2 separate regions of the Homo sapiens genome follow, and region 1 is linked to region 2. Evidence: fine-mapped expression QTL. A gene starts in region 2. The other region holds a variant in brackets. All regions are shown on one strand. Distances are between the middles of the regions. Region 1 overlaps ABCA2 (ATP binding cassette subfamily A member 2). Region 2 holds the start of LCNL1 (lipocalin like 1).

Region 1 (11,272 bases), 21 kb before region 2:
CCCGCCCTGCCCCGGGTCTCTCACCAGCCGCCCCCACCCCTGCAGCTCAACTACCTGGTCCCCGCTACCTGCTGTGTCATCATCCTGTTTGTGTTCGACCTGCCGGCCTACACGTCGCCCACCAACTTCCCTGCCGTCCTCTCCCTCTTCCTGCTCTATGGGTAAGCGGAAGCGGAGGGGGGAGCGGCCTCAGGTGGGACCGGGGCTGCCTGGTGACCACTGCCCGCCACCTGCCCGCAGGTGGTCCATCACGCCCATCATGTACCCGGCCTCCTTCTGGTTCGAGGTCCCCAGCTCCGCCTACGTGTTCCTCATTGTCATCAATCTCTTCATCGGCATCACCGCCACCGTGGCCACCTTCCTGCTACAGCTCTTCGAGCACGACAAGGTGGGGCGGTGACGACATGGTGGGGGTGGCGGACCCTGCGGAGGCTGTGCCCCTCACCCCGGCCACCCCTGTGCCCCTGACCCCGGCCACCCCGCAGGACCTGAAGGTTGTCAACAGTTACCTGAAAAGCTGCTTCCTCATTTTCCCCAACTACAACCTGGGCCACGGGCTCATGGAGATGGCCTACAACGAGTACATCAACGAGTACTACGCCAAGATTGGTGAGGGGGCCCGTGGGGCGGGGAAGGCGGTGGGGGCCCCGCAAGGCCCAGAGCACAGGCCCTGAGCTGTCTCCCCGCAGGCCAGTTTGACAAGATGAAGTCCCCGTTCGAGTGGGACATTGTCACCCGCGGACTGGTGGCCATGGCGGTTGAGGGCGTCGTGGGCTTCCTCCTGACCATCATGTGCCAGTACAACTTCCTGCGGCGGCCACAGTGAGTGGGGGGCGGGGTGGGGCGGGGGCGGGGCGGGAGCAGGGATGGGTTCGGGGGTGGGGCAGGGTAGGGGCGGGGGTGGGGGCAGGGATGGGGCAGGAGGGGGTGAGGCAGGGGACAGCAGAGGGGCCTGCCCACCCTTCTTACATGCCACAGCCAGAGGATGCGAGGCTGGTGGCAGGGAGGGGCAGTGGGGGTGGCGAGCTGCTGGACACTGTCCACCCTGTCCCCCAAGGCGCATGCCTGTGTCTACCAAGCCTGTGGAGGATGATGTGGACGTGGCCAGTGAGCGGCAGCGAGTGCTCCGGGGAGACGCCGACAATGACATGGTCAAGATTGAGAACCTGACCAAGGTGGGCTCTGGGCATGTAGGGTGGGGCCTGGGTGGGGTAGGCCAGGGCCAGGGGGGTGGGGCCCCAGCAGTGGAGGTGGAGCCTGGGTGGGCAGGGCCCTGAGCTCTGGGGGTGGGGCCTGCATGGGGTGGGGCTGTGGGGCACGTGGCCCCCTGGGCTCTGGAGGTGGGGCAGGGTCTGGGTGGGGTGGGGCCAGAGGGGCAGGGTGGGGGCAGGATGCCCCGCTGAGTGGGCAGGCTCCTGGCCAGGTCTACAAGTCCCGGAAGATTGGCCGTATCCTGGCCGTTGACCGCCTGTGCCTGGGTGTGCGTCCTGGCGAGTGCTTCGGGCTCCTGGGCGTCAACGGTGCGGGCAAGACCAGCACCTTCAAGATGCTGACCGGCGACGAGAGCACGACGGGGGGCGAGGCCTTCGTCAATGGACACAGGTGGGGCGGGAGCCCTGGGTGGGCGGGGCCGCCGCGTCCTCACGCGCTGACAGCTGCCGTGTCCCCAGCGTGCTGAAGGAGCTGCTCCAGGTGCAGCAGAGCCTCGGCTACTGCCCGCAGTGTGACGCGCTGTTCGACGAGCTCACGGCCCGGGAGCACCTGCAGCTGTACACGCGGCTGCGTGGGATCTCCTGGAAGGACGAGGCCCGGGTGAGGATCTGTGGGGCGGGGCAGGGAGTCAGCACGCTGGGTGGCCCTGCCTCCACTGACACCTGCGTTCCCTGGCCAGGTGGTGAAGTGGGCTCTGGAGAAGCTGGAGCTGACCAAGTACGCAGACAAGCCGGCTGGCACCTACAGCGGCGGCAACAAGCGGAAGCTCTCCACGGCCATCGCCCTCATTGGGTACCCAGCCTTCATCTTCCTGGTAAGTCCTGGGTGGGTGGGGGGTGGCTGCCTGGCCTTTGACTTCCTGGTGAGCACGGGCAGGGGCAGCGTTCAGGCTGGGGTGTGTGGGCCTGGCAGCAGCTGAGCCTGCCACCCATCCCCAGGACGAGCCCACCACAGGCATGGACCCCAAGGCCCGGCGCTTCCTCTGGAACCTCATCCTTGACCTCATCAAGACAGGGCGTTCAGTGGTGCTGACATCACACAGGTGAGGGCGCCCCCACCCCCTCTTTGTGCCCCCACCCCACAGCACCCCTTCCGGTGCCAGCCTGTGCATGTCCCACAGCATGGAGGAGTGCGAGGCGCTGTGCACGCGGCTGGCCATCATGGTGAACGGTCGCCTGCGGTGCCTGGGCAGCATCCAGCACCTGAAGAACCGGTGAGCCGGGGCAGGGCCAGGGGTGGGCTGGGGCGGGCCCGGGGGGGGCGGCCAGGCAGCGGGGCCAGGAGTGGGGGTGGCTGCAGGGCTGTGAGGGCTGTGGGGCCAGGGGGGCTGGGGGCACTGGGGCTGGGGGGACTGGGGCAGTGGGGCCAGGGGAGGAGCCTGGAGGGCTGTGGGGGCTGTGGGGTTGGGGGGCTGTGGGAGGCTATGGGGCTTCCTGGGGTGCCTGTGGGGGCTGTAGGGCTGGGAGGCTGGGGGGCTGGGGCTCTGGCTGGGCGGCGCAGGGCTCCGGGCCACCGGCCTGTCCCACCAGGTTTGGAGATGGCTACATGATCACGGTGCGGACCAAGAGCAGCCAGAGTGTGAAGGACGTGGTGCGGTTCTTCAACCGCAACTTCCCGGAAGCCATGCTCAAGGTGCGCCGTCCCGGGCAGGGTTGTGGAGGGGGCGCTACGGGGTGGGGGGGCGCTGCCAGGCCTCTGACCTCCCCCCCTGCAGGAGCGGCACCACACAAAGGTGCAGTACCAGCTCAAGTCGGAGCACATCTCGCTGGCCCAGGTGTTCAGCAAGATGGAGCAGGTGTCTGGCGTGCTGGGCATCGAGGACTACTCGGTCAGCCAGACCACACTGGACAATGTGAGCGCCCCAAGGGCACTGCGCACCACACCTGCCCCTCCCCTCACCCGCCCTGCCCCTCCTCACCCCAGACCAGCCCCCTCCCCACACGCCTGCGCCACCCACCAGGTGTTCGTGAACTTTGCCAAGAAGCAGAGTGACAACCTGGAGCAGCAGGAGACGGAGCCGCCATCCGCACTGCAGTCCCCTCTCGGCTGCTTGCTCAGCCTGCTCCGGCCCCGGTCTGCCCCCACGGAGCTCCGGGCACTTGTGGCAGACGAGCCCGAGGACCTGGACACGGAGGACGAGGGCCTCATCAGCTTCGAGGAGGAGCGGGTGAGCAGGCTGCTCTCATGGCTGTCCAGGGCTCTGCCCACTGGACCCAGGCTGCCTGGTGGCTCCAGCCGCGGGTGGGGTCGGGGGAGAACTGGCCCCAGGATGCTTGCTGTCCAGAGGTCAAGGGGGCAGAGTGGGCGAGGGACACTTGCAGATAGGCCTGGAGAGACGTAACTGCATGGTCCAGACTTGCTAGAGTCTTTGAGGGGCACAGAGCAAGGGTGGGGCAGAGGGGACCAGAGCCGGGGAACAGGGGACCGATGTAGACTCAGTGGCCCCCAGACTCGGCAGACGGAGGCCCGGGAGAGCCCAGACACAGAGGGAGCTCGTGGGGAGACCCTGCGTCCAGGCCCAGCCTGCAGGAGGGCCGGGGCGGGCCAGCACAAGTGTCCTCAGCCCCAGCAGGGGGTGGCACAGGATGCCCCATAAGCCTGACCTCCCCTGTGCACAGGCCCAGCTGTCCTTCAACACGGACACGCTCTGCTGACCACCCAGAGCTGGGCCAGGGAGGACACGCTCCACTGACCACCCAGAGCTGGGCCAGGGACTCAACAATGGGGACAGAAGTCCCCCAGTGCCTGCCAGGGCCTGGAGTGGAGGTTCAGGACCAAGGGGCTTCTGGTCCTCCAGCCCCTGTACTCGGCCATGCCCTGTGGTCACTGCGGTTGCCGCCCCTAATTGTGCCAAAGGCTGACCCGGCCCGGGCTGCGTACACCCTTGCCCTGCTTTGCCTTAAAGCCTCGGGGTCTGCCCGGCCCCTCGCCCCTGCCTGGCACTGCTCACCGCCCAAGGCGACGCCGGCTGGACCAGGCACTGCTGGCCTTTCTCCTGCCCGGCCTCGGAACCAGCTTTTCTCTCTTACGATGAAGGCTGATGCCGAGAGCGGGCTGTGGGCGGAGCTGGGTCAGTCCCGTATTTATTTTGCTTTGAGAAGAGGCTCCTCTGGCCCTGCTCTCCTGCAGGGAGGTGGCTGTCC[T/C]GCGGGAAGCCATCAGCTTGGGCCAGCTGGCAGGTGGCAGGAATGGAGAAGCTGACCCTGCTGGCCAGGCAAGGGGCCAGACCCCCCCCAACCCCCAGCTGCCATCGCTCTCCCACCCAGCTTGGCCCCCTGCCCGCCCACCTCCCTGGGAGCCGGGCCTGTACATAGCGCACAGATGTTTGTTTTAAATAAATAAACAAAATGTCTGCGGGTCTGCGTGTGTGGGTTGGGAAGGGTGGGGAGGATGGGCGCATCAGGTGGGTTAGCGCTCCAGAAGGCCCTGCCCCTCAGGCACAGGTGCTGGCAGGGGGTGGCTGGGTCGGTCTGGAGGAGGGAAACTGAGGCAGGGTGGTTCACCATGGTTCACTGTCCCCCTCATCCCACCCTCAGGGGTTGCTCCCGGCCCCCTTCCCCTTAGCCTTCATCTTCCCGTCCACCTGCCCTCTCTAAGCCTCCTTCACCCCTTGCTGCCCACGTGGGGCCTGCAGCAGCCTGGGCTAGGCTGTCTCCGTGTCATGGAAGGGACAGCGAGGGCTTCCAGGAAGAGGCGACCTCCAGGAGGAGACCGAAGTCTGTGAAGATTCCTTAAGGGAAGGGCATCCCAGCCAGAGGGCAGGGCACAGGCCAAGGCCCCAGGGAGGCAGGACCTGGAAGCTTTGAGGCTCATCAGCGGTGGAGCCTGGCACACTGTGGGCAGGAGATGGGGGAGGGGCATGAATGGCCCCCAGAGCTCACGCCCCGTGATCTGGGCCAAGTTCAGACTCTTGCCTTAGGCCGTTTCAAGGCTCCTCAGGAGGGTAGAGGGTGGACTCACTGAGGGCTGGTGCCACATGGGGGACAACAGGGGAGGGGCCCATGGGCTTGAGGGCACTGGGTGGGCTGGGCCAACACATCCACTTGGGTTCCTATGAGGCACTCACTGTGACCACCTGAGAGGCAGTGGGATGACCATGCTGGAGTCCCTGAGAGGCTGGGTCACTGGGGTGAAGCTGTCCTGGGCCCTGGGGGCGGTTCACTCTGGAAGAACCGAGAGGAACAGTGGCTCACTGGAGGGGCTGGTGTGGGTTTGGTGGTCGGCCAAGGGAAATGCGTGGGGGAGCCGCCAGAAGGCAGGAGGCCGCAGCAGCCTCCGTCCTGCAACTGTAGGGGCTGAATCATGGCAGAAAGAGGTCGAGAAAGGAACACGGCCCAGCCGAGGCCCAGGGAGACCCTGCGCGCAGGACCAGGCCAGGCTGGACCTGGACAGCCGCCCACAGACTGACACAGTTCACGGGGGCATCGTCCCTAGAGGTTTCATTTTCATGATGTGTAATGCAGCATTGAAAGCAAACACACCCCCCAGCATCTTCCTCAGAACATTTTCCGCCGAGCACGGTGGCTCACGCCTGTAATCCCAGCACTTCGGGAGGCCGAGGCAGGTGGATCATCTGAGGTCAGGAGTTCGAGACCAGCCTGGCCAACATGGTGAAACCCCATCTCTACTAAAACTACAAAAATTAGCTGGGTGTGGTGGTGGGCGCCTGTATTCCCAGCTGCTCGGGAGGCTGAGGCAGAAGAATCACTTGAACCTGGCAGGTAGAGGCTGCAGTGAGCCAAGATCGTGCCATTGCACTCCAGCCTGGATGACAGAGTGAGACTCTGTCTCAAAACAACAGCAAAAAGAACATTTTAAACTTTCAGGAAAGTTGCGAGAATAGCAGAGCGCACGCCGCATCTTCAGCCGATGCGCCTGTGAAATCTTGCCACACGCACCGTCGCTCTACCCACTTTTGTGCTGCCCCATGTGAAAGCAAGCAGCTGTGACCTGCCAGCCCCGGCCCTGCAGCCTCCTTCCCCCAAGAGCCGCCAGGGTAGCCCAGAGTTAACAAAGGGTACAGCAAGGCTTTTCAGGGCCCCGGTGGCCCAGGCATGCCCTTTTTTATTTTTTATTATTATTTGTTTGAGGAGACGGAGTCTCACTCTCTTGCCCAGGCTGGAGTGGGGCACAATCTCGGCTCACTGCAAGCTCCGCCTCCCGGGTTCACACCATTCTCCTGCCTCAGCCTCCTGCGTAGCTAGGACTACAGGCGCGCATCACCATGCCCGGCTGATTTTTGTGTGTGTGTGTGTGTTTTTAGTAGAGATGAGGTTTCACCATGTTGGCCAGGCTGGTCTCTAACTCCTGACCTCAGGTGATTGCCCCAGCCTCAGCCTTCCAAAGTGCTGGGATGACAGGTGTGAACCACCGCGCCTGGCCAATTTTTGTATTTTTAGTAGAGATGGGGTTTCACCATGTTGGCCAGGTTGGTCTCGTGTAGGGACCAGCCCCACAGGGTCGGTGGGTCTCTCCCCATGTGCGGTGACGAGACAGTGTAGAAATAAAGACACAAGACAAAGAGATAAAAGACAGCTGGGCCCGGGGGACCACTAACACCAATGCGTGGAGACCAGTAGTGGCCCCGAATGTCTGGCTGCACTGTTATTTATTGGATACAAGGCAGAAGGGGCAGGATAAGGAGTGTGAGCCATCTCCAATGATAGGTAAGGTCACGTGGGTCACGTGTCCACTGGACGGGGGCCCTTCCCTGCCTGGCAGCCAAGGCAGAGAGAGAGAGAAGAGACAGAGAGAAAGACAGCTTATGCCATTATTTCTGCATATCAGGGACTATTAGTATTTTCACTAATTGACTACTGCTATCTAGAAGGCAGAGCCAGGTGTACAGGATGGAACATGAAGGCGGACTAGGAGCGTGACCACTGAAGCACAGCATCACAGGAGACGGTTAGGCCTCCGGATAACTGCGGGCAGGTCTGACTGATGTCAGGCCCTCCACAAGAGGTGGAGCAGAGTCTTCTCTAAACTCCCCCGGGGACAGGGAGACTCCCTTTCCTGGTCTGCTAAGTAGCGGGTGTTGTTCCTTGACACCTTTTGCTACCGCTGGACCACGGTCCGCCTGGCAACGGGCGTCTTCCCAGACGCTGGCGTCACCGCTAGACCAAGGAGCCCTCTGGTGGCCCTGTCCGGGCATAACAGAAGGCTCGCACTCTTGTCTTCCGGTCACACCTCACTATGTCCCCTCAGCTCCTATCTCTGTATGGCCTGGTTTTTCCTAGGCTATGATTATAGAGCGAGGATTATTATAATATTGGAATAAAAAGTAATTGCTACAAACTAATGATTAATGATATTCATATATAATCATATCTAAGTTCTATATCTGGTATAACTATTCTTGTTTTATATTTTATTATACTGGAACAGCTCATGTCCTCGGTCTCTTGCCTTGGTGCCTGGGTAGCTTGCCGCCCACAGTCTCGAACTCCTGACCTCAGGTGATCACCCAGCCTTGGCCTCTCAAAGTGTTGGGATTACAGATGTGTGCCACCATGCCCAGCCAATTTTTGTATTTTTAGTAGAGATGGGGTTTCACCATGTTGGCCAGGCTGGTCTTGAACTCCTGACCTCAGGTGATCGCCTAGCCTCGGCCTCTCAAAGTGTTGAGATTGCAGGCGTGAGCCACCGTGCCTGACCAATTTTTGTATTTTTAGTAGAGATGGGGGTTTCACCATGTTGGCCAGGCTGGTCTCGAACTCCCAACCTCAGGTGATCTCCCAGCCTCGGCCTCCCAAAGTGCTGGGATGACAGATGTGAGCCACTGCACCCGGCCCTAGGCATGCTCTTTAGAGTTTTTCCAAAAAACCAGGATCAGCCAGGTGCTGTGGCTCAAGCCTGTCATCCCAGCACTTTGAGAGGCTGAGGTAGGCAGGTCACCTGAAATCAGGAGTTCAGCTTGGCCAACATGGCGAAACCCCATCTCTACTAAATATACAAAATTAGCTGGGCATTGTAGCGCCTGTAATCCCAGCTACATGGGAGACTGAGGCAGGAGAATCACTAGAATCTGGGAGGCGGAGGTTGCAGTGAGCAGCGCTCCAGCCTGGGTGACAGAGTGAGACTCCGTCTCAAAAAAAAAAAAAAAAGAAAGAAAGAAAAGGCTGGGCATGGTTGCTCACACCTGTAATCCCAGCACTTTGAGAGGCCGAGGCGGGTGGATCACTTGAGGTTGGGAGTTCAAGACCAGGCTGACCAATATGGAGAAACCCTGTCTCTACTGAAAATACAAAATTAGCCGGGTGTGGTGGCACATGCCTGTAATCCCAGCTACTCGGGAGGCTGAGGCAGGAGAATCGCTTGAACCTGGGAGGTGGAGGTTGCGGTGAGCTGAGGTTGTGCCACTGCATTCCAGCCTCAGCGACAGAGTGAGACTCTGTCTCAAACAAACAAACAAAAAAAGGAAATAAAAATCCAGGATCCAACCACGAGGCACTCCTTGTGTCTTGCTGCCTTCCCCGGGGCCCCTCTGAGCCGTCCCCAGCCTTGGCGTTCTTGCCCTTCCAGGGGGACAGGCTCCGCAGGCCCAGGCTGAGCTCTGGATGTGTCTTCATTTCCTCCTGGCTGGATGCAGGTTGGACATTTTTGGCCGGAGCAGCACTGGGACACGCTGTGTCGGTCACCTCCAGGTGTCCATCTGTCCCTCAGCAGGTGATGCTGAATGTGGCCGCCTGGTTGAGGCCCAGTTCTCCCTCCCTTAGATGTGGGAACGCAATCTGGGTGCTGCGTGGCCGCGCCCCCCGACCCCCGTCACCCAGGGCCAGCAGCTGCAAAATGGCCATTTCCTGCCTCTATTCCATTTCTGCATCTACTGGCTGGCATTTCTCTCTCACCAAGGGCCCCTCCACTTTAAAAAGTCTATCAGTACAGACTTGCAGGTTTAAAAAAATTAATGTGTTAACATGCATTACTGTCATCTTTTAATTACTTATTTTGAGACAGGGTCTTGCTCTGTCACCCAGGCTGGAGTGTGGTGGTGCAATCATAGCTCACTGCAGCCTCCAACTCCTGGGCTCAAGTGATCCTCCTGCCTCAGCCTCCTTACAGGCATGTGCCACCACACACGACTAATTTTTATTTTTATTTTTGTATAGATAGGGTCTTGCTATATTGCCCAGGCTGGTCTTCAACTCCTGAGCTCAAGGGATTCTCCCACTTCAGCCTCCCAGAGTGTTGGGATTACAGGGGTGAGCCACTGCATCTGGCTCTTTTAAAATTTTTTGATGGTGGTAAAATCTATGTAACATTTATCACGTTAACCATTCATAACGCACAATCCACTGTTGTCTTATGCTCAGATGGCCTGAGGTCCAGCCAGCGGTGCCCCTCCAGCAGGCGCCCCTCCAGCACGGCTTCTGTGTCTTCGTAACCAGCTCCTGATGTGTTTTGAGTGCGTCCCTGCCTTCCCTGCCCCACACCTGGAATCAGCCTCTCTCCAAGGAGCCTGTCTCAGTCCGACCAGGACTGCTGTGCAAAGGACCCTGGACGGGTGGCATTCATGCCTCACAGCTCTGGAGGCTCGAAGTCCGAGGTCGGGACGCCAGCATGGCTGGGTTCTGGCGAGGGCTCTTCTGGGTTGTGGACTTCCCTTGACTCCTCACCTGGCAGGAGGAGCGAGGGAGCTCTCCGGGGTCCCTTTTATGAGGGCGCTGATTCTGGTCATCTCGAGGGTGTCACCTTCATGACCTACCCACCTCCAAAAGACCCCGCTTCTTTTTTTTTTTTTTTTTTTTGAGTCTCGATCTGTCACCAGGCTGGAGTGCAGTGGCGCAATCTTGGCTCACTGCAAGCTCCGCCTCCTGGGTTCATGCCATTCTCCTGCCTCAGCCTCCTGAGTAGCTGGGACTACAGGCGCCTGACACCACGCCCGGCTAATTTTTTGTATTTTTAGTAGAGATGGGGTTTCACCATGTTAGCCAGGATGGTCTCGATCTCCTGACCTTGTGATCCGCCTGCCTCGGCCTCCCAAGGTGCTGGGATTACAGGCTTGAGCCACCGCGCCCAGCCAACCCCACTTCTTAACACCATCACCTTGCAGGAGACAGGGTTTTGTTTTGTTTTTTTTTTTTTTTTTGAGACAGAGTCTCGCTTTGTCACCCAGGCTGGAGTGCAATGGAGTGATCTCGGCTCACCGGAAACTTTGCCTCCCAGGTTCAAGCGATTCTCCTGCCTTAGCCTCCCGAGTAGCTGGGATTACAGGCATGTGCCACCACGCCCGGCTAATTTTGCATTTTTAGTAGAGACAGGGTTTCCCCATTTTGGTCTGGCTGGTCTGGAACTCCCAACCTCAGGTGATCCACTCACCTCGGCCTCCCAAAGTGCTGGGATTACAGGCGTGAGCCATGTGCCTGGCCTAGGGGCCAGGGTTTCAACACACAAATTTTGGGGAGGACACATTCAGTCCCTAGCAGAACCCTGGTTCCTTTTAGGGAAGATGGGCTTTGGGACCAGAATCTGAGCTCTGGTCTGCACACTGCTCCCGAGGTCTCGCTGCCCCCGAGGTCCCGCCGCCCCCGAGGTCCCGCCGCCCCCGAGGTCTCGCCGCCCCCGAGGTCACGCCGCCCCCGATGTCTCGCCGCCCCCGAGGTCTCACCGCTCCCGAGGTCTCACTGCTTCTAGGCTCTCTCCATGCACAGAGCAGATAAATCTCTGCACAAGTTTGCACCAATACCCCAATGCCCCCAGCCCTCCGGCCCCCCAAACAGGTGTGTGTCTCCCTTCAGAACAGAGCTGCTCAAATGTCACTGGGGTGTGGCCCTGTGCAGGCGGAGGCAGGAGGATCACTGGAGCCCAGGAGGTGGAGGCTGCAGTGAGCTATGACTGCGCCATTGCACTCCAGCCTGGGTGACAGAGTGAAACCCTGTCTCAAAAAAAAAAAAAAAAAAAAAAAAAAAGAGCCCCTTGGAAGGGGCCTACAGGGAGGGGTGTTGGGGAGGGAGAGAGTTCTAACCCACCAGTCAGTCAGTCCCAGAGCAGCAGCCTCGGGACCTCAGCTTGGGCCCCTCTAACGCTGGCTCTATGAATCAGGAGCAGGGGCTGCAGGGGA
Region 2 (11,723 bases):
TTGACCACAGCCTCCTGAAACTTTGTGTCAAAGGCCCAGAGTCCTGCCTGGCTGACACTGGGAGATAATGCATGCCTGCTGGTTAAGCAGCTGCATTTGGGGTAACCTGTCACTCTGCAGTAAGTGACCACCAATACACTTATTTACCCTGCTTATTGTCCATCACCCCAGGAGGTCCATGAGGGCAGGGATTTCTGTCTGTTTTACCTGCCAGTGTATCCGTCTCTTCAGCGCTTACACAATGGCTGGCACATACAGACACTGAATAAACATTGTGAATGAATGAATGGGGGGTGGTGGCTGTTGGAGGTTTAAGCAGGGGTGGATGGGAAGTGGCACGTCTGACTTATGTGTGTGAAGTCCGTATTCTGTGCTGTGAGGAGAGAGGACGGGGGCTGCAGAGGAGAGGGGTGGACCATGGGCTCGGACTGGAGGTGGAGGGAGGAGGAGACAAAGAACAATCAAGGATGGCCCTGGCATTTGGGAAGAGTGGAAAGGGGAGATTCATCCCCAAGATGACTGGGGTGGGGCAGATTTGGAGAGGACTGGGGGGCCTCTTCTTTGTCATGTGAACTCTGAGATGCTGGCTGTAGCAGGCCCCAGATATCAGGCCCTAATCCCTGGGACCTGTGAATGCTATTGTCTATGGAAGATGCTGGGCACTGCATTCCAGCCTGGGCAACAGAGTGAGATCCTGTCTCCCCTTCCCCCCAAAAAAAGGAAAGAAAAGAAAGGAGTGTTTGCAGATATTCCCTTGAGATGGGGTGATTATCCTGGATTGCCCAGGGAGGCCCTCAGTGCCATCTCAAGGGCCTTTTAAAAGTGAGGCAGAGGAAGCTTTGAGACAGAAAAGAAGGCAGCATGGCATGGAGGGAGGAACTGGAGCGATGCAGCCCACAAGCCAAGGATTACAGGCTGCTATCAGAAGCCAGTGTTGTGACCAAGCGAGTTATACAGAAACGCCACACTTTGAGACAAATTAAAGAGTCCGTTATTAGCCGCGACTGAGAGGCAGCTAACGCTCAAAATTCTCTCGGCCCCGAGGAAGGGGCTAGTTTTGTTTTTATACCGTGGTCTAAATAGGGGAGGGGGGATTTTAGCTGAAGCAATTTTTACGGAAGCAGAACTGGCAAAAAGTTAAAAAAATTAATTGGTTACAAATGCAGTTACAAAAAATAAACAGTTCCAGGTGCAGAGGCTTAAACTATCACAAAGAGATAAATGCAGGGGTTTTGGGTGCCATCCACCACGCGTGTCCCCAGGAGCTGCTGGTGCAGCTTGCCTCAATGTCTTATCAGTAGGTGCATTCCTGGACGTGCTTTGAGTCAGTTTACACTAGCTATGCCTTCAGGGAGGAAGGTGAAAGGGGGCCGCAGGTGAAGAAACTAAAATGGAGTGTGTCCGGCTCTCTCTCTGCCAGGAGAGGGTCACTCAGGTGGAAACAAGGTAGGGTATCCCACCAGAAGAGGCCAGGCCCAGTGGCTCATGCCTGCAATCCCAGTGCTTTGGGAGTTCAGAGTGGGAGGACTGCTTGAGGCCAGGAGTTCAAGGCCAGCCTGAGCAAGACAGCAAGACCCATCTCTAAAAAGAAAACATTAGCCAGGCATAGCGATGCATGCCTGTAGTCCCAGCTACTTAGGAGGCTGAGGCAGGAGGACTGCTTGAGCCCAGGAGTTCAAGGCTTCAGTGATCTGATCGCGCCATAGTACTCTGGCCTGGACATCAGAGCAAGACTCTGTCTCAACAACAACAAAAAAAGAAGACAAAGAAGCTAGAAGAGGCAAGGAAGGTTTCTCCCCTAGAGCCCTCGGAGGGAGCACAGCCCGGCTGATACCTCGACCCTATTAAACTGATTTTGAACTCTGGCTTCAAGCTACAAGTTTGTGATAATTTGTGGCAGCTGTAGGAACTGACACAAGACCAGAAACAAAGATTAGTTCCAAAACATGACGAGAAAACTGCAAAACCTTCATTTAACTAGCCTCAGGCTGGGTCCGTGTGGACCTCAGGTGTTTATTTTACACTTTGGCTCACACCCTGGTGTCATGTTCTGTTTCGTGGCTCACATCGGGCCAGCTTCATCTACTGGCAGCAGCTTTTCCACTGGCTTCCACCACGTCCTTCTCTGAGATACTTTTTTATACTTTTTTTTTTTTTTTTTTTTTGAGACGGAGTTTCGCTCTGTCGCCCAGGCTGGAGTGCAGTGGTGCGATCTCGGCTCACCGCAACCTCTGCCTTCCAGGTTCAAGCGATTCTCCTGCCTCAGCCTCCCGAGTAGCTGGGACTACAGATGCCCACCACCACACCTGGCTAATTTTTGTATTTTTTAGTAGAGACAGGGTTTCTCCATGTTGGTCAGGCTGGTCTCGAACTCCCGACCTCCTACCTCAGGTGATCCGCCTGCCTCGGCCTCTCAAAGCTCTGAGATTACAGGCATGAGCCACTGCACCCAGCCATGGGAGCAATTTTCTTTAATGTAGGATACATTAATACAGTGTATGAGATATAAGGTTAGTGGAGCTTTGCAAGCAGAAGGAGAGGGATTACAAAGTCCCCACGCACACACTTGAAGTCGGTGATGGAGGCAGAACAGGGGAGGGAAAGGGCTGACCTTTCCCAAGGCATAGAGCACCTGGAAGCTGGGCCAAAAAGAGGAGCAAAAGGTCCGGAGAACGAGCTCTAGGGGAGTGGGGGCCAGTCAAGTTTTGGGGTAGCAGAGGTCAACAACCAAGGGAGGTATTTGAGCAAGACTTCAGAGACGGGAGTGAGTGCACTGAGTGGCACTGGGAGAAGGGCAGTCCAGGCAGGGGTGACCTGGGCAAAGGCCCTGAGACACGTGAGGGGCTGGCAGCAGGACGGAGGGAGGGGAGTGGATGGTGGGTCAAAGGAAAGCCTAAAAGAGAAGACCTTGTTGGCCACCATCAAGACTTAGGCCTGAGGCCGGGCATGGCGGTTCACGGCTGTAATCCCAGCACTTTGGGAGGCCGAGGTGGGTGGATCACCTGAGGTCAGAAGTTCAAGACCAACCTGGTCAACATGGTGAAACCCCGTCTCTACTAAATATACAAAAATTAGCTGGGCGTGGTGGCGGGCACCTATAATCCCAGCTACTCAGGAGGCTGAGGCAGGAGAATCGCTTGAACCCGGGAGGCAGAGGTTGCAGTGAGCCAAGATCGCGCCACTGCACTCCAGCCTGAGCAACAAGAGCGAAACTTCGTTCCAAAAAAAAAGACTTAGGCCTTTACTCTCAGTGCAATGGGACCCACTGTGGGGTGCTGAGCAGGGGGGCCTGATCTGACACATCTTGTGAATCCATCCCCTGGGCTTCTAGGTGGAGAAAGGGCTGAGCGTGGGAGGTGAGGGACTCGATGCGTCTGCAAGGGATTGGGGGCTGACCACAGCTGGACCCACAGCCACCCCCAGAGGCTGCCCCACCCTGGAAGGAAGGAAAGGGCATCCCTGAGGCTGTGGAGGGCAACCTGCATTTCCCGGCTCGGAATCTTCCTGGGAATGCAGGGGGGATGCAGAGCCACTGTGCTCCGCCGAGTGGTGTTTTTTTGTTTTGTTTTGTTTTTTTTCTGAGGCAGAGTCTCGCTCTGTGGCCCAGGCTGGAGTGCAGTGGCACAATCTTGGCTCACTGCAAGCTCCGTCTCCCAGGTTCACGCCATTCTCCTGCCTCAGCCTCCCGAGTAGCTGGGACTACAGGCGCCCGCCACCACACCCGGCTGATTTTTTGTATTTTTAGTAGAGACGGGGTTTCACCGTGTCAGCCAGGATGGTCTCGATATCCTGACCTCATGATCCGCCCGCCTCAGCTTCCCAAAGTGCTGGGCCCGGCCCGAGTGGTGTTTTTTAATAACAAATTTTCTGGGCTGGGCCCAGTGGCTCACGCCCGTAATCCCAGCACTTTGGGAGGCCAAGGTGGGTGGATCGCTTGAGGTCAGGAGTTTGAGACCAGCCTGGCCAACATGGCAAAACCTGTCTCTACTAAAAATACAAAAATTAGCAGGGCGTGGTGGCGATCACCTGTAATCCCAGCTACTTGGGAGGCTGAGGCAGAAGAATCACTTGAACCTGGCAGGTGGAGCTTGCAGTGAGCCGAGATCGCACCACTGCACTCCAGCTTGGGCGACAGAGCGAGACTCCATCTCAAAAAAACAAACAAACAAAACTCTGACCAACTGAGAAGGAGAAATCAGAGCATACTGCACCCCGTAGACCCATCACCCAGATTAAACACTATCCAAATATTCACAGATTTGCAACCAGTATTTTTATTATTATTTTGCTGAACTAGGTACATTACAGCTAGTAGGCTATTTTCCTTCAAATTCTTCGAGACTTGTCTGTAAAAGACAACACTGTCCTACATAGACTCCAGGCAGGGCAGAGTTTTATGCGGCTCCTCCTGTCCTCCTCGCCCTCCACTCTCCGTGGACAGGCCCTGGGTCAGAGTTGGGAGCGCTTCGTTGGTCTCCGGAACAGCCAGGCCTCTGGGGCGGGTCCTGGAGCCAGGAGTCAGGGGCTGGGGAGCTGGGGGACCCGGAGGGGCGCCTGGGGATGGAAGCCGCCGACACTGACTGGGGCAGCCGCTTGGGAGGACCCGGAAGGCCACGTCGCGCGGCGGTGTCCGCTGAAGCCTGGGGCGCGCGCCGCGTGGTGTCCGTGTCCCGCCCTCCCGGCGCCCCCAGTCTGGGGGTCTGGGTCCGTGCGGAGGTAGAAAAGTCCCAGAGCTGGGGCTGGGGCCCGTCCTGAGGAACCTCCCTGCCACGGAGCCGAGGCTCGGTCCCTCCTGGGCTAACGCCTACCCAGAGGGGCAACAGGGGGTGACCCGGCCCCTCCCCCAGGGCGCCCATGTACCTGGCCGCCCCCCCGCCACCCCTCCCTGCCCCCAAGAAACGCACAGCGCCACAGGCATTCAGGGTGTTTATTGCGCTTGGGGCCAGGGTGTGGAGGGAGGGGGCTCTTTGGGCAGGGCTGGGCGCACGGAGCAGCTGACCCCTGCGGGCACTCAGGGGCTGGACCCCTCACTGCAAAACAAGGAGCAGGTGGGCGGCGTCCCCTGCCTCCGCCCCCTCCCGACGCGCAGCCCCGCGGTTCCCCAGGCTGCTGCGGCTCGGATCCGCCCGGGTGCCCCATCACCCCCGCTGTCGTCCCTAGCTGCCCCGAAGGTAGAGGGCCCCGCGGTGCAGCCCACCGAGCTGGGAGGGCCCATGGTCCGCGGCTCCGCATGGCCATGGTCTACTCACCCGGGAGAGCGCGCCCGCACACTGGTCTGCAGAGAGATCGAGCCTGAGGCGCCACCCCGCGCCCCCTTCCCTGGGACGGAGGCCCCCGACCTGCCCCAAGGCGATCTCCTCCTGGGAACACCGGCCTGGGCAACGTCTCGCCCTCCCCCGACCCAGACAGGCTGGGTCTGCCCCGGGCACTTCTGTCCCGAATCTGAGATCAGTGGAGTGACCAGGGCCTGGCCCTTCCAGCAGGGGTGTGACCCGGGGCCTGGCCCTCCCAGCAGGGCTGCCGGCACCGCTCACCCGACTTCGGCAGCAGGACGCCCTGGCTGGGGCTCAGGCCCACTTGGGGCGCCAGTAGCTGCATCTTCTGGGCGCCTTCGGGAAACAGCTCGGGCGCTCGAGCTGAAGGTGGGGAGGGCGGGTAAGCTAAAGGGAAGGGGCTGGAGGGGCGAAGAGAGGGAGAGAGGGGCAGGGAGGGGCCGGGACCCGCGGCCACAGACACCAGGAGCCAGCGGTTCCACCTTCCGCGTGCAGAAAGGGCTGGTGCAGGCACAGGGGTGACATCCCAGACCCGAAGCGGGGGTGTCTGGGTCTCCGCCCCGCAGCCCGCCCACCGTAGAGCTGCAGCCACTGGTTCCGCAGGCCCCCTTTCCGCATCTCCAAGTACAGCAAGGCAAAGTGCTGGTAGTCGGAGAAGGCCACTCGGATGTCACTCAGGGCCATGGCTGGAGGAGCGAGAGCCGCTGACCCCAGGCCCAGGGCACCTCCCCCCCGAGCGTGGCACCCCTCACGCCCCGGCCCCAGGTGCCAATCCAGCAGTCCATGCAGCCTCCAGGGCCCCCACGCCACAGCCCTGCCTGCTGCCCCACCTCACCTGGGTTGCTGAACTGCCCCGGTACAGCACCCTCGGTGAAGGTCGTGTCCATTTTCTGGCACCCGCCATGGGGCCTGGGGAGAAAGAGCCCCAATCCCCTGAGTGGCCACCCCTGCCCAGCGCCCAGGCCTAGAGCCTACCTTGCTGTCTCTGAGCCCAGGGTCCCCTGTTCACCCTCACAATCCTTAGAGGACATGGGACTTTAGGATGACCTTAGAGGTGGGGACACTCCTGCTGGGGGTGGGGTGGGTATTAAGTACCTGTTCACAGGCACACAGCCTAGAATGCAGGGCCTCCAGGTCCCCCTTCCAGACACAGACACACAGAAGACACACACATACACACATGCACACACACGGAGATAGACACAGACACAGACACACTGACAGACACACACATAGACACGCACACAAGACACACACAGAGATAGACACACACAGCCAGACACAGATACACAGACACACAGACACACAGACGCATACAGTGATACACACATACACACTCAGAGGTACACATCTACAAAGACACACATGCATACACACGCACACACAGACACACACACATGCAGAAATAGACACACATACACAGAGACACAGCCACATACAGTGATACACACACAGACACAGACATGCAGACACTTTTCTCAACACCAGGCCTCAGGCAGTGCTTCCTCCAGGGCCTGGGTCCCTCTGGACTCCGTGTGGCTGCCATCTGGGGCTCTGCCGCACAGAGCCGTCGAGGACCCGTGGTCTGACCTCAATGTGCTGGGGACACCATGGTCCCTCTGGACCTTCATGTGGCCTCATGCTGGCCATCCTCTGAGGCTGAGTCTGATGGGCTCGTGTGGTCACTTACGTGGGGTATCCAAACTTGAGGGCCAGGTCACCATTCCCCAAGGGGGTCACTAAGACCACAGCCATCTTCATGGTGTCCTTGGAGTCCAGGAAGTCCTGGTCATCTGACACCACCCCGACCATGTACCAGGTGCCCTGGAACTGCAGGGCAAGTGCAGGGAAGGCTGGGAGGCCGCCCCTGTGCCCTGGGCCTGAGCCCACCACATTCTGCCCCGACACAGCTGCTTCCTGGCCACGGCAGGGGCTGCTGTACACATCTCGACCCCGATGCAGAACTGAGGGAGGGGGGCCTCAGTACATGAGCAACTGGCCCCCACCAGCCCAGCACCGGCCTGTCTGCAGCTGGCACCCAGGGGGTACGGCTGGATGGGTGGGGCTGTGGCAAGGTCACAGGTCTTTGTGGGGTGGGTGGGGGACAGTGAGGCACAGGCAACCAACTTGTCCCTATTTTGGGCCCTGGGGATTGTTGGGGGATGCAACTGAAAAGGTAGGATGGAGGCTGCAGTCTTCCCCAGCCAACCCCTACTCCAGTCAGACGGAGCGGGTGAGGTGGGGGTTTCCCCTGCCCCTAGCCCTGCTGAGCCTGGATCAAAGAGGGTGTGGACAGGGACCCGGGGTGCAGCACCAAAGCCGGGAGGACTCATTGGAGATGAGGAGGAAACAGGGCTGGGCACACCTGGCTGGCATCAAAGTTGGCCTGGATGGGGACCTGGGCCTGGCCTGGGGATGCCCAGAGCAGGGCAAGGAGGGAACTGATCAGCAGAGCCCGAAGCATCATGCAGCAAGATGGCATCTCCTCCGGACACGGGAGCAGGGCAGAGCTGAGGTGGCTCCTCTGTAGGCTTTACGCCCCTGAGGTGCCCTGGGGCGGCTGGCCTGGGACTGCACCCACTGTGACAGGCTTCTGATCAAGTTGCACCCTGCAGCGCTCTGGCCTGGCTCCCTCCACCCAACCCCAGCCATCCGTTGCCTTTCCTCCGGGGTGGGGCCGGATGCCTGGCAGCTGAGGGTAGTTCTGACGGGCCTCTGGGCTAGGGGGCCTGCAGCTCACCCATCCTGCCTCTTCGGCCTTCTGCAGCCCCTCTGGGATGTTGGAATCCCCCCTACCTTGAGCTCAGGCACAGCCCTAAGCCCCCTTCTCCGGGAAGGCCACCCAGAAGCTCACCCTCACCTCCGAGCCTCAAAATGCTTGGTGCCTCTGCAGGGTCTGCCTCGGGGGGGCCTGGTGGGCAGGTCACAGTGAGTCCTGCACATTGTGTACCTGAGAATGGCTGCCTGGGTGGGAATCTGGAAGGGAGCAGGGTTGGGCAGGGCACTGGCCGGGCATGGTGTGGCCGTGGTGCCAGGGCTCTGGTGAGTGGACAAGGCTGTGATCTGGAGGCCCAGGTCAGAGGGCAGGGGGCGCACAGGGAGCCAGAAGGGATATGGGGTAGCCTGTCCCCAGCCCACTCTGTCAGTCTGTCCTGATGCGGGGTGGAGACACTCTGGCATGTTTCAAACAAATGTTTCTTTTTGTCCCCTGAAACCCTTATCTCTGCCCAATCTCAGTGCGTTAATCCCACACCTCAAGATACCCAACAGGTCCAAAGCTCCTCTGGGGCCTCGAGCCTCAGGCCTTTACTGCTGAGGGGGTGACAGGGTGGCGTTGGGGGTGCAGGGCACCTGCCTAAGGGATTAGCTGAGTCACTGACCCCCAGCTCAGCACCGGCCTGGTGGCAGTGGCAGCTGAGGGGGTATGGCTCGACGTGTGGGGCTGTGGGGCAGGGGCACACGACTGTGTGGGGTGGGTGGGAGACAGTGAGGGACACCCCCTCCTAGCTGTCCTGACTCAAGACCCCACTGGGAGCAAACACTAGAGGGCCTGTTCCTTTGTTGACGTCAGGCTGAGATTTTAGAGGGGGAGGTCCGGGTGGCCAGGGCCAGGCCCAGGACGGGTGATGACAGCGCAGACAGCCAGGAGCCAGCTCTACTGACTTGCTTCCGGAGTTTATTGTGCAGGATGAAGCCTGAGTGGGCAGGGTTGCTTTGGCGGGGAGCCGGGGCAGGGGCTCGGGGAAGGAACAGAGCAGAGACATCCAGAGCGTGGGGGTCACCTGGCTGGCCGGGATCCCAGCTTCAGCCCTGGGGAGTCCTGAGGGGTGTGACCGAAAGGCTAGGATGGAGGACTGCAGTCTACCCCAGCCCACCTCCACTCCAGTCGATGGAGCAGGTGCGGGCTACGGGGACTTTTCTCTGCCCCCAGCCCCACTGAGCCCCGCTGAGAGAGCAAGATCCATCCCTGGGGCTTGGATCCCCGCTGCCCCAGGGTCTACAGACTCCACCCTTCCCAGCCCCAGGGTCCACAGACTCCAGCTCCAGCCTAGGCCTCCCTCCTGGGGGTGGTGGGTGAATCCGCCCTGAGCCTGCTCTCCGAGCTGTCCCACGGCATCCATGTAGCGTCCTTGGCCCTCCCCTTCCATCCCCTGTTCCCTCCCATCCTGTCTCCCCCACCCTGGTTTCCTCCTAGCCCAGGAGCCAGACACCCTTGCTGCCAGGTGGTCCCTGTGGTATAGCCCCTTGGCCTTGTCTGCCTGGGGCCTCGCACCTGCACCCCCCAACCATGAGCCTTCAGGAGTCAGCCCTGTTCCAGCCACTGGGACAGGTTTTCCTTCTGAGCCTCACACCTGTGCACCCATCAATGTGGGCAGCCCCAGTGTCTCCCGCCCGGCCCTGGACTGCAGCCATCGGGAAGGATGGGTCTGCAGCACCAGGCTGTCCTGGGGCCCTGATCCATCCCATCGCAGAGTGGGTTGGGTGGATGTGTGTTGAATGAATGAATGAATGAATGAATGAATGAATGAATGGAGTGGCTCACCTATTGTTCCGTCATGCACTTATCTGCCAAGAAAGAAGCCAGGGGCTGTCGTCAGAACCCCAGACTTAGGCCAATTTTCCCACTGGGCTTCCTGTTCCTCCCGTAACGCAGAGCTCGTCTTGACTGAGCCCCCAAACTGCACAGATCCCCCATCACCTCCCACCTCTCCCTGGGCACTGGAAACAAAGAGAGGGTCTTTCTCCACCTCTGCCAAGAGCAGGCTGTCCACCCCTAGGAGGCTGTGCCTGAGCCCAGTATGGTTGGTTCCCCTGTATCCCCCATGGGCACCCTCTACCCTATGCCCCCCACCAGGCTGAAGCCCCACATCCTGGGAGCTGCTGGGGCCTGGCACAGAGTGGGCGCCTGGTCTCCATGTCCCCCATGGAGGGGGCTCCTCATGAAGGGGCTGCGGGAGGGAGGTTCTGACTTGAACACTCACCCCCTCTGTCCCTGGCCCAGGCCTCGAGCAGGGCGGGGCCACCTCCTCCCCTCTGCCTCCCCCAGTCAGGAGACTGCCTGCCTGCCTCTAATCTGACCTTGATCCTCTCCCCATCAGATTAGGACCCCTCACCGGTTTGGGGCAGGAAGACAATGGTATCCTCTGTGAAGCCCTGGGCCTTGCAGAAGGCGGTGAATTTCTCCTTTAACTCAGCCCTGGGGGTCTGGGTTCGGCCTGGGACAGGGTGGAGACGGAGCTGGCCTCAGCGGGGGGGATGCTGTGTGCCCTGCCCTGGGTCTTGGGGAGCCCCCTCTGGTCAGGCCTGCGTGTGGGCGGCGTCCACGGGGCACGTACTGTAGAGGGTGGCCATGCGGAAGTCCTCGCCAGGGCCCTTGCTGCCCTGGCTGTACAGCAGCGCGTACTGGTCGTAGTCGGTCTCCACCACTGACACGGAGTAGGTGCTGCCCCAGTCTGGGAACCCAAGAGACAACCCTGTCGGGGACTCAGCCCCCCAAACCTCACCTCTGCTTCAGGGAAGGGGTGCACCTGTGGGCTTTGGGGGCACTCAGCCCCTCGGCTGGCCCGGGATGCTCCCCCACCCGGCTGCTCTCCAGCCAGTGCCCTGCTCTCGCCTGCACAGCCTGTGAACCCTGTCCCCAAACCAGAATCTGGGGGAGCCAGGCTCAGAAAACCAGGATTCCTGGTGCAGCCGCAGAAGTCGCTGCCAGAACCGGAAGTGAAGAGGTTTCCCCGTGGGAGCCATTCCCCAGGTGGGAGTGAGGAAACCCCTGGGTCCTGGGGAGGAGAATTGGGAGGAGGCATATGGAGGGGCCTTGGGGGGCTGCTTATGTGGGGAAAACTCCAGAGGGCAGGGAAGGGGCCTGACAAGACAATGGTGGGCTCCAGAGAGGATCCAACCCCCTGGAGGAAGGGTCTCTCTGTCCCTAACACTTGTGCATGGGTAGTCACGCCCAGGCCTGGCCTTTGCCTCTGACGCTGGTGGGGCAGCCATCACCTCCCACCCCATGGATCTCCGCGGCAGGGGGCTGGCCCAGAGTCGTCCCGGCAAGTGTCGCCCCCAGGCTGGGCCCAGGGGGCCGGTGGAGGCCCCACTCACGGGGACTCCGGTAGCTGTAGGAGCCGAGGGACCCCGCGGGCTGCAGCAGCATGGTTCGGGTCTCACACTGGTTTTTCCTGTAGGTGGGTGACCTCAGGGTCAGGGGTTAGGCCCGAGGGTGTCCCTGGACCTCTCCGTCCCAGAAACCCACCTGCCCGCTGTCCCACCTGAGGAAGGTGGAGGTCAGGTTGAGGCCACCATCCGTGGCAGGGGCCACCACAGACTTGCACATGGACAACGCCGCCTTCTTCTCCCGGAGCCAGCTCGAGTTGGAGGCGAGGCCCGCGCTGAACCAGCGCCCCAGGAACTGCGGCGAGCGACCCCCACCCGCGTCGGCCAGGACCCTCCGGA

What was found.
Region 1: its variant is fine-mapped to the expression of LCNL1 in whole blood (TOPMed, PIP 0.90).

The regions. Positions count from the first base shown.
Region 1 is chr9:137,000,523-137,011,794 of GRCh38, reverse strand. ABCA2 (ATP binding cassette subfamily A member 2) reads left to right here. Exons shown (of 49, transcript NM_001606.5): 36 at 46-161; 37 at 241-388; 38 at 486-609; 39 at 690-822; 40 at 1,058-1,175; 41 at 1,424-1,602; 42 at 1,671-1,812; 43 at 1,892-2,026; 44 at 2,151-2,254; 45 at 2,333-2,425; 46 at 2,742-2,844; 47 at 2,927-3,064; 48 at 3,173-3,379; 49 at 3,831-4,561. The coding sequence ends at 3,866. Among named protein-coding and RNA genes, the nearest start is that of CLIC3, 9.6 kb to the right of the region's middle. RefSeq lists an enhancer at 160-1,359. The variant T/C (reference allele first, on the strand shown) is at 4,356.
Region 2 is chr9:136,978,949-136,990,671 of GRCh38, reverse strand. It overlaps LCNL1 (lipocalin like 1), which reads right to left and starts at 7,679. Exons shown (of 3, transcript NM_207510.4): 1 at 6,964-7,679; 2 at 6,109-6,182; 3 at 4,914-5,959. The coding sequence starts at 7,085. The coding sequence ends at 5,661. It overlaps PTGDS (prostaglandin D2 synthase), which reads right to left. Exons shown (of 7, transcript NM_000954.6): 2 at 11,540-11,679; 3 at 11,373-11,449; 4 at 10,610-10,726; 5 at 10,388-10,489; 6 at 9,817-9,839; 7 at 8,930-9,093. The coding sequence ends at 9,817. RefSeq lists a silencer at 141-435 and enhancers at 5,228-5,783, 5,784-6,341, 11,129-11,723.